3 linked regions of the Homo sapiens genome follow. The protein of the gene in region 2 purifies or fractionates together with the protein of the main gene of each other region. This does not show direct contact. Each region holds a gene or a part of one and is shown on either strand. Other genes may lie near its edges.

Region 1 (3,500 bases), on a different chromosome or scaffold from region 2:
CTTGATTTATTTTGAATGCTGAAGGGGGAAAGTTGAAGCTGGAAGAGAGAAGGGGACAGCTAAAAGGACTCAGGGGAGTTGTATGAGGAATGGTCCAGAGCACAGGCGGAGGGATTAGGTTTGGATGAGAGGAGAAGGGGAAGGCATTTCATTCTTGGAGTCCCCAGATTAGGTTAGAGGCCAGGTGGGGATGGGAAGCTGAGGAATTCGTATTTTATAACATTCTTTAATTCTGGAGTGAGACTGGGGCCCATGTCACCTGTAGTAAGGTGGTAGAATAGGAGCTTGAGAAGCATAAGAAATATTTAACTCAATTCTTGAGTGTTTCTTGAAGGTTAGGCATCGTGCTAAAACTTGGGATATGAAGATAAATAAGGCATGATCTTCTGCAAACAACTATACTTTGTGGTGAAGAACAGAGACAAATTAGCTCAGAAAAGGTGGCACTGGATTTGGCCTTAGGTTGGAGGGCTGGAGGAGGTCAGCTAGGTGGCATTTGAGCAGATTCGGAGGTTGAGTATAAGACTGCCAGGGAAAGTTGAAAAGGGAGAAGGGTGAGGATTTGCAGTGGCATGGATGTCTGGACAAGCAAGGCTAATAAGAAAAAAAAAAACAACCCTTTTTCTGGAGATATAATATTCATATAGAAAAGTTCATAAACCACAAGTTTACAGCTCAATGAATTTTCACAAAGCAAATGCTCCCATGTAACCAGCACCCAAATCAAGAAACAGAACATCACCAGCAGGCAGGGCCCATATGTGAGGCAGAAAGTGTTAGAATTTGGAGAGGAGGCTGGAGGAGTAGGCAGGGTCTTGCTGTGTTGGGTGTGGGAGCTGGGAGGGGAGGAAGGGTCTGGCGTGCAGAGATGGACGTTACATGACTTCTGCCTTTACGGTCAAGGTGTAATTGTTTTTCTACCGGTTTTGTAAAATGACTGTTACTTTGTAAAATTTGGGTAAAGACACCATATTTCCCTTGCTTATTTATTTATTTATTTATTTATTTATTTTTTGAGATGGAGTCTCACTTTGTCACCTAGGCTGGAGTGCAGTGGCGCGATCTCGGCTTACTGCAAGCTCTGCCTCCGAGGTTCACGCCATTTTCCTGCCTCAGCCTCCCAAATAGCTGGGACTACGGGCACCCTCCACCATGCCCGGCTAATTTTTTTGTATTGTTTTTAGTAGAGATGGGGTTTCACCATGTTAGGCAGGATGGTCTCAATCTCCTGACTTCGTGATCCACCCGTCTCGGCCTCCCAAAGTGCTGGGATTACAGGCATGAGCCACCACACCTGGCTCCCCTTGCTTATTTAGAGGAGAGAACTTTCTTACTAAATAATTATTTCACTTTTACATTATTTAAGATTTTGGAGGGGTATTTTTAAAAGGCTTATTTGAAAATTAATTTTGTTTCTCTATTTTCTCTTTTTACTCAGGGTTATTATGTGTACCGTGACATGCTAGGCGAAAAAGGAGATTTCATTACTTCACCTGAAATAAGTCAAATCTTTGGGGAGGTAATATACTATGTAAAGTATGAATGAAGCTAATATAAACATTTGAGAGCAGATCAAATTGTATTATTCTGTAGTAGTGTTCTACAGCTTTTTTTGTGATTCATCAAAAGTTTTAACTTTATAGTAGTTTATGTACTGAGGGAATAGAGAGGCAGTAGAGGGGAGTAAAATGGTAGAGAGAATATTTGAAAAGTTTATACTCCACTGTAGGAAGGGAAATGGAGAGATAAGAGGGACAAAGAGAAAGAGAAGGAAAGGAGGGGGTCATAAAGAGGACAGAAAAAGGAGAATCAGATGAAGGAAGAGAATGGAAGAAGGGGCCAGGCGTAGTGGCTCACACCTGTAATCCCAGCACTTTGGGAGGCCGAGGCAGGCGGATCACAAGGTCAGGAGATCAAGACCGTCCTGGCTAACACGGTGAAACGCAGTCTCTACTAAAAAAAAAATACAAAAAATTAGCCGAGCGTGGTGGCGGTCGCCTGTAGTCCCAGCTACTTGGGAGGCTGAGGCAGGAGAATGGCGTGAACCCGGGAGGCGGAGCTTGCAGTGAGCCAAGATGGCGCCACTGCACTCCAGCCTCGGCGACTGAGCAAAACTCCGTCTCAAAAAAAAAAAAAGAGAATGGAAGAAGGAAGAGAGACAAAAGGAAAGGCGAGGAAAGAGGTAGAGTGCCCAGGAGAGTGCCCGGGAAGGAAGAGAGAAAAGATAAAGAGCATTGAAGAATTAGTGGAATTAAGAGAAGCTCTAAAGCTCCCAGTCATGATTTTAGCCGTACTTACAGTAAAAGTCTTCTTTTATTTATCTATTTTTTGAGCCAGGGTTTTGCTCTTATTGCCCAGGCTGGAGTGTAGTGGCGCAATCTCGGCTCACTGTAACCTCTGCTTCCCGGGTTCAAGCGATTCTCCTGCCTCAGCCTCCCGAGTAGCTGGGATTACAGGCATGTGCCACCACTCCTGGCTAATTTTGTATTTTTAGTAGAGACAGAGTTTCTCCATGTTGGTCAGGCTGGTCTTGAACTCCCGACCTCAGGTGGTCCACCCGCCTCAGCCTCCCAAAGTGCTGGGATTATAGGCGTGAGCCACCACGCCCAGCCAAGTCTTCCTTTAATAAACAGAATTCTAATTCATTTCCACTAAGTACCTTCTATGAATTTAGAAATAGGAAATAGTGTATACGAGGAAGTAGAATGTGCGTATCGAAAAACATTAGTTATTATAAGAATCATGTAATTGTTTAAATCATATGAATATGAAGAAATGGCATAATCACATTTCATATGTTTATTTGCTTTCAAATACTAATACCTTTCTGCTAGTGATATCCTCTTATCTATGTCATGGGACCTTTTATAGCAGAGGCTGCCTTATTTTTTCCTATTAATCTTCCTAAATGGTGTATGTTATGATGTAGTCCCAGGAAGTTCCTATGTGAACATGTACGTATGTATTGAACAACATACATATGGCTGTACACATTTTGCTTTTTGGCATATAGTGCATATTTATGTGAAATTTTATATTGTGGTATACTTTTATACTTTATAATACTTTAATATGTGTTTTTTTTTTCCCTTTTCACAGCTACTAGGTATATGGTTCATTAGTGAATGGATGGCCACTGGAAAAAGCACAGCTTTCCAGCTGGTGGAACTGGGCCCAGGTAGGGGAACCCTCGTGGGAGATATTTTGAGGGTAGGTAATAAAAGAATGTCTTCTAGTCTCATATAAGTGAATTTTAGTACTTCTGAGTGTGCAAACCATGTTGATTTCATTGGTTTTCAGTTCCTTAATTTCATATTTCTCAGCTAAAATATAATGTCAGAATAATGTAATCAGTCATTACTTACTGTTGTCTGTAAACTTAAAAATTGGAGGGGAGGGGGAGAATATGAAAGCTAAAAATAGGAAACATTTAGAAGACATTATGGGAGAGTGTATTTGTTTCCTCAGGAAGGAAAGTTGTTAATTATATTAAAAGTTTA
Region 2 (3,500 bases):
GTCTCACCAGACCTCCCAGTCTCCCCAGTGCCCTCCCTCTGGGTCCAACCTGGGGAGCAGAAGTGAGAGTGAGCCCAGGGAGGCAGGGTGGACAAGCCTCTCAGGCTTGAACACATGGGGCACAAGCTAGGGAAAGTGGCAGGCATCCTTCTCAGGAACAACAGGCAGTACACAGGCAAGGTAGAAAGGAGGCCCTGTGGGCTGCTCCCCGAGCTCCATGGATTCCCAAGGATCAGGCTGTCCCTAGTGCCCGTGGGCCCCTTACTGGGCCACCCACACAGCACTGCCATGGCCGTCCTGAGGAAGGGTCTTACCCAGTTTATCAATGGTTGTGATCAAGTCTGAGGGCACAAAGGAGTCCAGGTCTGCATCCAGAATGCCCAGGGGGTCCAGCTGGGCCACATGGTGACCCCGGATCTGGGAGGAGGGAAAAGAGCAGGGTGGGGCTGGGACCCAGCTGGACAGACCTCCTCCAGGGTAAGGCTCTGGGCCCCAGCCCCTCTCTTCCCATTCCCGAATGTTAAGCTTCCCCATGTCTCTGCCCCGCGGCTACTTCACTGCTGCCTGCGAGACCCCAGCCACAGCCAGTAAGGTGGCAGGAGCTCAACCTGGTTTGGAAGTACAACATGCACGGGCAAAAACAGGAAAAAGACCTATGCACAAAGGTGTTCACTGCGGTGCTACTAGTAATAGTGAAATTCTAGAAACTTCCCCACTGTCTATCAGCAGGAGACTGGCGCATGGATATGGGCGATCCACACAGCGGAGCACTCCAGAGCCATTAAAAGGAAGAAGAAAAATCCCCATCTGATACTACAAGGTAGTCTCTAAAAAATATTGTTAAGCAAAAAAGCAAATTCTAGCAAAGTATGTATGGTGAACTACACATTATCTAATAAAAAGGAGACACAAATAAATATATGCATTAGAAGGGAAAATCATAAAATTTAAAAAAACCACAACATAAGAAAAATTATCCTCTAGGGGAGGGGACAAAATAGGATAGAGAGGCAGGGCTAGGAGCCAGATTTTTAAGAAGTTATCTTACTTTGAAGATTTGACTTTCAAACCTTGTAAATATTTTACATTCTTATAAAACAAAATTAAGTCTTAAAAATTGAAAGTGAAATGAATCAAATGAATAAATATGTCCACTTAGTGGCATAAATACAGAGAGAAACCATTCCAATTGACTAATGGAACATTCCCTAAAGACAAACAGAAAAAAATTCATCAAGTCTTTTTTATTACCAGTCAGTCGTAATAGTGTTAGAATTGTTATGCTGGCTGGGCACAGTGGCTCACACCTGTAATCCTAGCACTTTGGGAGGCTAAGATGGGTGGATCACCTGAGGTCAAGAGTTCAAGACCAGCCTGACCAACATGGTGAAACCCCATCTCTACTAAAAATACAAAATTAGCTGGGCGTGGCGGCACATGCCTGTAATCCCAGCTACTTGGGAGGATGAGGCAGGAGAATCGCTTGAATCTGGGAAGTGGAGGCTGCAGTGAGCTGAGGTCGCACCACTGCGCTCTAGCCTGGGCTACAAGGAGAAACTCCATCTAAAAAAAAAAAAAAAAAAAAAAAAGAACTGTTATTCTAAGATTGTTGCATGTGAGCTCTGGGAAATCAAACAAGCCATTGTACTGGCATCTTTGAGAACCTCTATTTTTGACATCTCTAAAGGCAATGTTGCCATAAGATTGACAGGGTCAAGGACAAACCCCAAATCCCACATTTGTAGCACGTTAGAAGCATCAGTATAAACCCTTTCCTGGCTCTGATTCCTGAAAGGGCCCAGAAGTAATGATCAAACCAATAGCAGGAAACAGCCAGAGACCTGGACAGTTCTGGAATAGGCAGAAATGTACAAGCTGAGCTTGAAGCATCTTGTTATACCAACATCAAGGCAGTGTTCAAACACCACGAGTGCTGGGAATAAGGACAAGTTTTGAGCAACTATAAGGACAGTATACCTACAGCAGATTGAAACTCATCAAATATGTTTATATTCATGCATTCATATGAATCCAAAAAAAAGAAGATAAACTTTCATTAGTCACTTTTGGAGTGTGCTAGGGAATCACCTCATAATTTTGAAAATCACTGAATAAAAGAAAAAAATAAAGCAGTGATCCTGTCTTTCCTACACAATCTGCACCTCAGGATAAACAGAGTTAACAAACGGAAGTTTCTCCTGATAGTGGGACTTCAGTTAATAAAGAAGGCAAAACAGAATTGGCATATCACCATTTTTGCAACCCCTAGTGAGTTAATGGATCTAGGAAATCACTATCCACAGCTGCTAACTGCTCAAGTGCCATCACCATCACCACCAGGAAGCTGATTTTGAAAAAAAAAAAAATCAAATGTCTATGGGATCGAGCCTCTAGATCTAATTGTCAAAGTACAGAAATTACATGGGACAATGGGACAGATGAAATGACATCATGAGGAAGCCATCAGCAAAATCCAGACTTGGGAAAACCCTACAGGACAAACCACCTGGTTTTTCCACATCATAAAAAGAAACAGAGGGAACCTGCAAAGTACAAGAGACGTAAGAGCCACTTTAGCCTATTGCAACCTGTGGATTTAGCTGGATCCTGCTTCAAAGAAGCAGTAAAAAGAAAGCACAGGCTGGGTGCAATGGCTCACGCTGTAATCCCAGCACTTTGGGAGGCCAAGGCGGGCAGATCACTTGAGGTCAGGAATTCAAGACCAGCCTGGCCAACATGGTGAAACCCCGTCTCCACTGAAAACACAAAAATCAGCCAGGCGTGGTGGCAAGCACCTGTAATCCCAGCTACTCAGGAGGCTGAGCCAGGAGAATCACTTGACCACGTGGGGCAGAGGTTACAGTGAGTCGAGACTGCATCACTGCACTCCAGTCTGGGTGACAGAGTAAAACTCCATCTAAAAAGAAAAAAAGAAAGCACAGGACAAAAGGCAAACACAAATGTCAACTGCATATTTGATATTAGGCATTATTATGTTTAGATGCGATAATGGTATCATGGCACATTTTTTAAGAAGCCCTTTTCTCTAGACATACACAAAGAAATGTTCAATGAATGAAATGCTATATCTGGGATCTGCCTCAAGATAATCAGCAGTGAGCGGGGGCTAAGGGGGAAATTGATGAAACAAGGCTGGCCATGATTGATGGGTGGTGGGCTCACTGCACTATCCTTCTGCCTTTTATATGTTTGAAAATGCTTATAATAATACAGTGTTTTTTTTTCAGCACAGTGTGCAGGTGATTCTAACCACAGCTGTGCCTGCTACTCGCCTGTAAGGGGCTGCAGCCCTCCTGGTGGGAGCTCATCCACACCAGGCACAACAGAGTAACACACCTGAATCCAGAAGCCACCCTGCCAGGAAAACTCTCTAATGCCTCGTCTTGGTTAATCAAAGAACAAAGAGCTACTGAAGGGCTGAGATCTGTGCTTAGAAGATAAGGCCCTCGGGCAGCACCCTGAACGTTTCCCTGTATTTA
Region 3 (3,500 bases), on a different chromosome or scaffold from region 2:
TTGCACTGCTGCTTCCAATTCCAATGAGATTTCCTACAAATCAGAAAATTAAAGACAATCTAAAATGAACACAACACCAAATAAATTTTATTTATATTCAAATAATTCCTTTGGAATTGGAGAATAAGATAGAGTAGGGCAAAAGGAAAACTGTTCCTAAGTGTTATTTTCACATATTTTTCCTGGCTGATCTTGCCTTTTAAAATATTTCAGACAGAGTCTCATTCTGTCGCCCAGACTGAAGTGCAATGGCGTGATCACAGCTCACTGCAGCCTCGACCTTCTGGGCTCAAGCAATCCTTCCACTTCAGCCCTCCGAGTAGCTGAGACCACAGGCACATGTCACCATACCAGCTAATTTTTTTTTTTAATTTTCTGAGATGAGGTCTCACTATGATGTCCAGCCTGGTCTCAAACTCCTGGGCTCAAGCAATCCTCCCACTTTGGTCTCCGAAAGTGCTGGGATTATAGGCGTGAGCTACCACGCCTGGTCTGATACTGACTTTTTAACCAAACTTTATCACACATTTCCCATAATAGTCCTGATCATGTATCTGGCATTTACACTAAAGGCTAGCTATGGTCAGGGGTTGACATTAAAAAACATTCATATTTCATCAATATGCTTTATGCTGAATAATACGGAAAATAATTTTTTAAAAACGTAAGATGTTTAAAACAGTAAAATCACTGGTTTTCTCAGTACAATCTTTTAAGAAACCAGCACGAACAGAACTAACACCTTTCAGTACTTGCCATTCTAAAACACTCATTCATTTATCTACAGGTGTATTTTGGAGCCGACAGAAGCTTGCACAAATAATTAAAACCTATCCTGAGTCTTTAAAACACAGAAACTTTGCTCTGGGAGGGATGCTGATGTCCTCGCCCGGTAGGGTGACAATGATTTCTGACATACAGAATTTCATGCTCCCACCTTTAGGTTTCCTTGCAACAAAGACCAAAATGGTGAGAAGACCAGTTGCACCCATTAGACACCCTGTGATATATAGCAGCATTCTAAGCTATGTGTTTTTTTTTTGACAGAGTCTCACGCTGTTGCCCATTTTTTTTTTTTTTTTTTGGATGGAGTCTCACTCTGTTGCCCAGGCTGGAGTGCAGTGGCACGATCTCGGCTCACTGCAACCTCTGCCTCCAGGTTCAGGTGATTCTCCTGCCTCAGCCTTCCGAGCAGCTGGGATTACAGGCGCATGCCGCCAGGCCTGGCTAATTTTTGTATTTTTAGTAGAGATGGGGGTGGGGGGGGGGTTTTCACAATGTTGGCCAGGCTGGTCTCGAACTCCTGACCTCAAGTGATCCACCCACCTCAGCCTCTGAAAGTGCTAAGATTACAGGTGTGAGCCACTGCGCCCGGCCTAAGCTCCATTTTTTAATACCCTGATAAACACCATTGTCCTTAATGAATTATTTATGTCACTTATTTTTATATCATCAGATTTTAGAAAAAATATTTAGAGCTTTAATATTTAGCAAACAATGGAAAGTATAAAACTATCAAAATTTATGCCTTGTGTTCATACTTGATTTTCTCTTGCCATTGTAGCCAGGTCATCTTGCAGTCTTCTGTTTTCCTTAAAAGCGATTTCTCTAGATCTTCCTACTTCATCGAGTTCTTTGTGAGCTGCATCAAGCTGGCGCCGGAGGCTGTTTATCTCACGATCTCGATTAACCAATGTTTCTTTCAGCTGGCTGTTAAATGAGTGATGTGAAACTAATAAAGAAAACTTTTAAAAACTGTAGTTCATTTAAAAGAAAACTTATAGTCTAAGTATACTTAGAATACAAATATACTGTGATTATAAGAAATTATAACTGCTGCATTAAGAGACCTATTAATTAGGTAGAACAGGTATTTTAGAGCTCTACCAATAATTACATGCAAATGAAGTTAAAAAAAAATGTTATTCCAACAGTCAAGTAAACACAGAAAACTTTCAAGTGTTAAAAGTTGAATAGCTTGGGGGCTGGGCGCGGTGGCTCACGCCTGTAATCCCAGAACTTTGGGAGGCCGAGGCGGGCAGATCATGAGGTCAGGAGATAGAGACCATCCTGGCTAACACGGTGAAACCCCGTCTCTACTAAAAATACAAAAAAAAATAGCCGGGTGTGGTGGCGGGCACGTGTAGTCCAGCTACTTGGGAGGCTGAGGCAGGAAAATGGCGTGAACCCGGGAGGCAGAGCTTGCAATGAGCCGAGATCGCCCCACTGCACTCCAGCCTGGGCAACAGAGCGAGACTCCGTCTCAACAACAAAAAACAACAACAACAACAAAAACAGTTGAATAGCTTGAGCCCAGGAGTTCGAGACCAGCCTGGGCAATATAGGGAGACGTTGTTTCTACAAAAATTTTTTTTTAAATTAGCTGAGCGTGGTGGCACACGCCTGCAGTCTCAGCTACTCAGAAGGCTGAGGTGGGAGGATCACCTGAGCCTGGGGAGGGTGAGGTTGCCGTGAGCAGAGATCTCGCCACTACACTCCAGCCTGTGCGACAGAGTGAGACCTTGTCTCAAAAACAAACAAACAAAAAGTAAAGCATAGATTCAATTGGCAAATATTTATTAAATGTTTATAATCCCCACTATTATATAAAATGTTAAGGGTATGTAAAATAAATATAATAAGTGACTTTTTTCTTGAAGTGGCTTACAATCTGCCTAGAGAGACTATACATAAAATGTAAAATTTTGTGACAGTGCTCAAGATAGGTTTAGATGGAGAATAAATTCGAGATTGGCTACTAAAGTAATTTTAGGTTTTAATGATTAGGCTCCAAGTGGCATAATTATAGTAAAAATAAGGAACAAATAGGTATATAGGAGAATAGTTAATAAGACATAAGTGTTTAGATGTGGATGACAGAAAAGGAGAGGTTAAAGAAGATAACATTTTCAAGCTGGAGACTGAGAAAATGATGCTACCATTGACAAAAATGGGGAAATTGAAAGGGAAATTCTTCTATTGCTGCAATGCTACTGAATAGATAAAGCTGTATTCACTGAAAATCTCCTAAAAAGCTGGATGTAATTTCATTAATGACTTACTTCACAGATGATTCACACTCTGAGATCATTATCTTCATTTGAGCAACAGCTTTTTCCTATAGAAATTACAAAAATGTGTAAGATTTTAAACCAAAATGTCTTTAGCTAAATTTATGTAACTTGTCATATTCATATAGTTCAAATACACAGCTCAATTATATAAAGTATGCCTAAAACAAAGCTCCAAGTAAACATATCTCCATGTCCCAATCATACTTCACATACTGGCATGTTTTGACCAACCCTTGAATAGTTTTCTTGAGTTTGCTTTAATGAGATCTGATAAAATCACATTCTAGAAATAGACAAAATCACATTTTGAAGATTAACATTATTTGAAAAAAATGACATTTAAACATTAGAAAATATGGCCCTAGGTCTTAGAAACTTCTACATGGCCAATAATAACTGCATATTTGGGAAACTTCTGGGTCTAAA

The links. Proteins that work in one complex are often made in the same cells at the same time.
Region 1: the proteins of OGDHL (region 2) and NDUFAF7 purify together in Homo sapiens (affinity purification with mass spectrometry; one large-scale study listed by BioGRID and IntAct). This does not show direct contact.
Region 3: the proteins of OGDHL (region 2) and CEP135 purify together in Homo sapiens (co-immunoprecipitation; one large-scale study listed by IntAct). This does not show direct contact.

What each region holds. Positions count from the first base shown.
Region 1 is NC_000002.12:37,234,658-37,238,157, forward strand, and holds part of NDUFAF7 (protein arginine methyltransferase NDUFAF7, mitochondrial), read left to right. Parts: intron 1-1,438; coding exon 1,439-1,519; intron 1,520-3,099; coding exon 3,100-3,210; intron 3,211-3,500. UniProt on the Homo sapiens protein: Arginine methyltransferase involved in the assembly or stability of mitochondrial NADH:ubiquinone oxidoreductase complex (complex I).
Region 2 is NC_000010.11:49,752,324-49,755,823, forward strand, and holds part of OGDHL (2-oxoglutarate dehydrogenase-like, mitochondrial), read right to left. Parts: intron 418-3,500; coding exon 315-417; intron 1-314.
Region 3 is NC_000004.12:56,007,945-56,011,444, reverse strand, and holds part of CEP135 (centrosomal protein of 135 kDa), read right to left. Parts: intron 3,119-3,500; coding exon 3,063-3,118; intron 1,711-3,062; coding exon 1,542-1,710; intron 34-1,541; coding exon 1-33. UniProt on the Homo sapiens protein: Centrosomal microtubule-binding protein involved in centriole biogenesis. Acts as a scaffolding protein during early centriole biogenesis.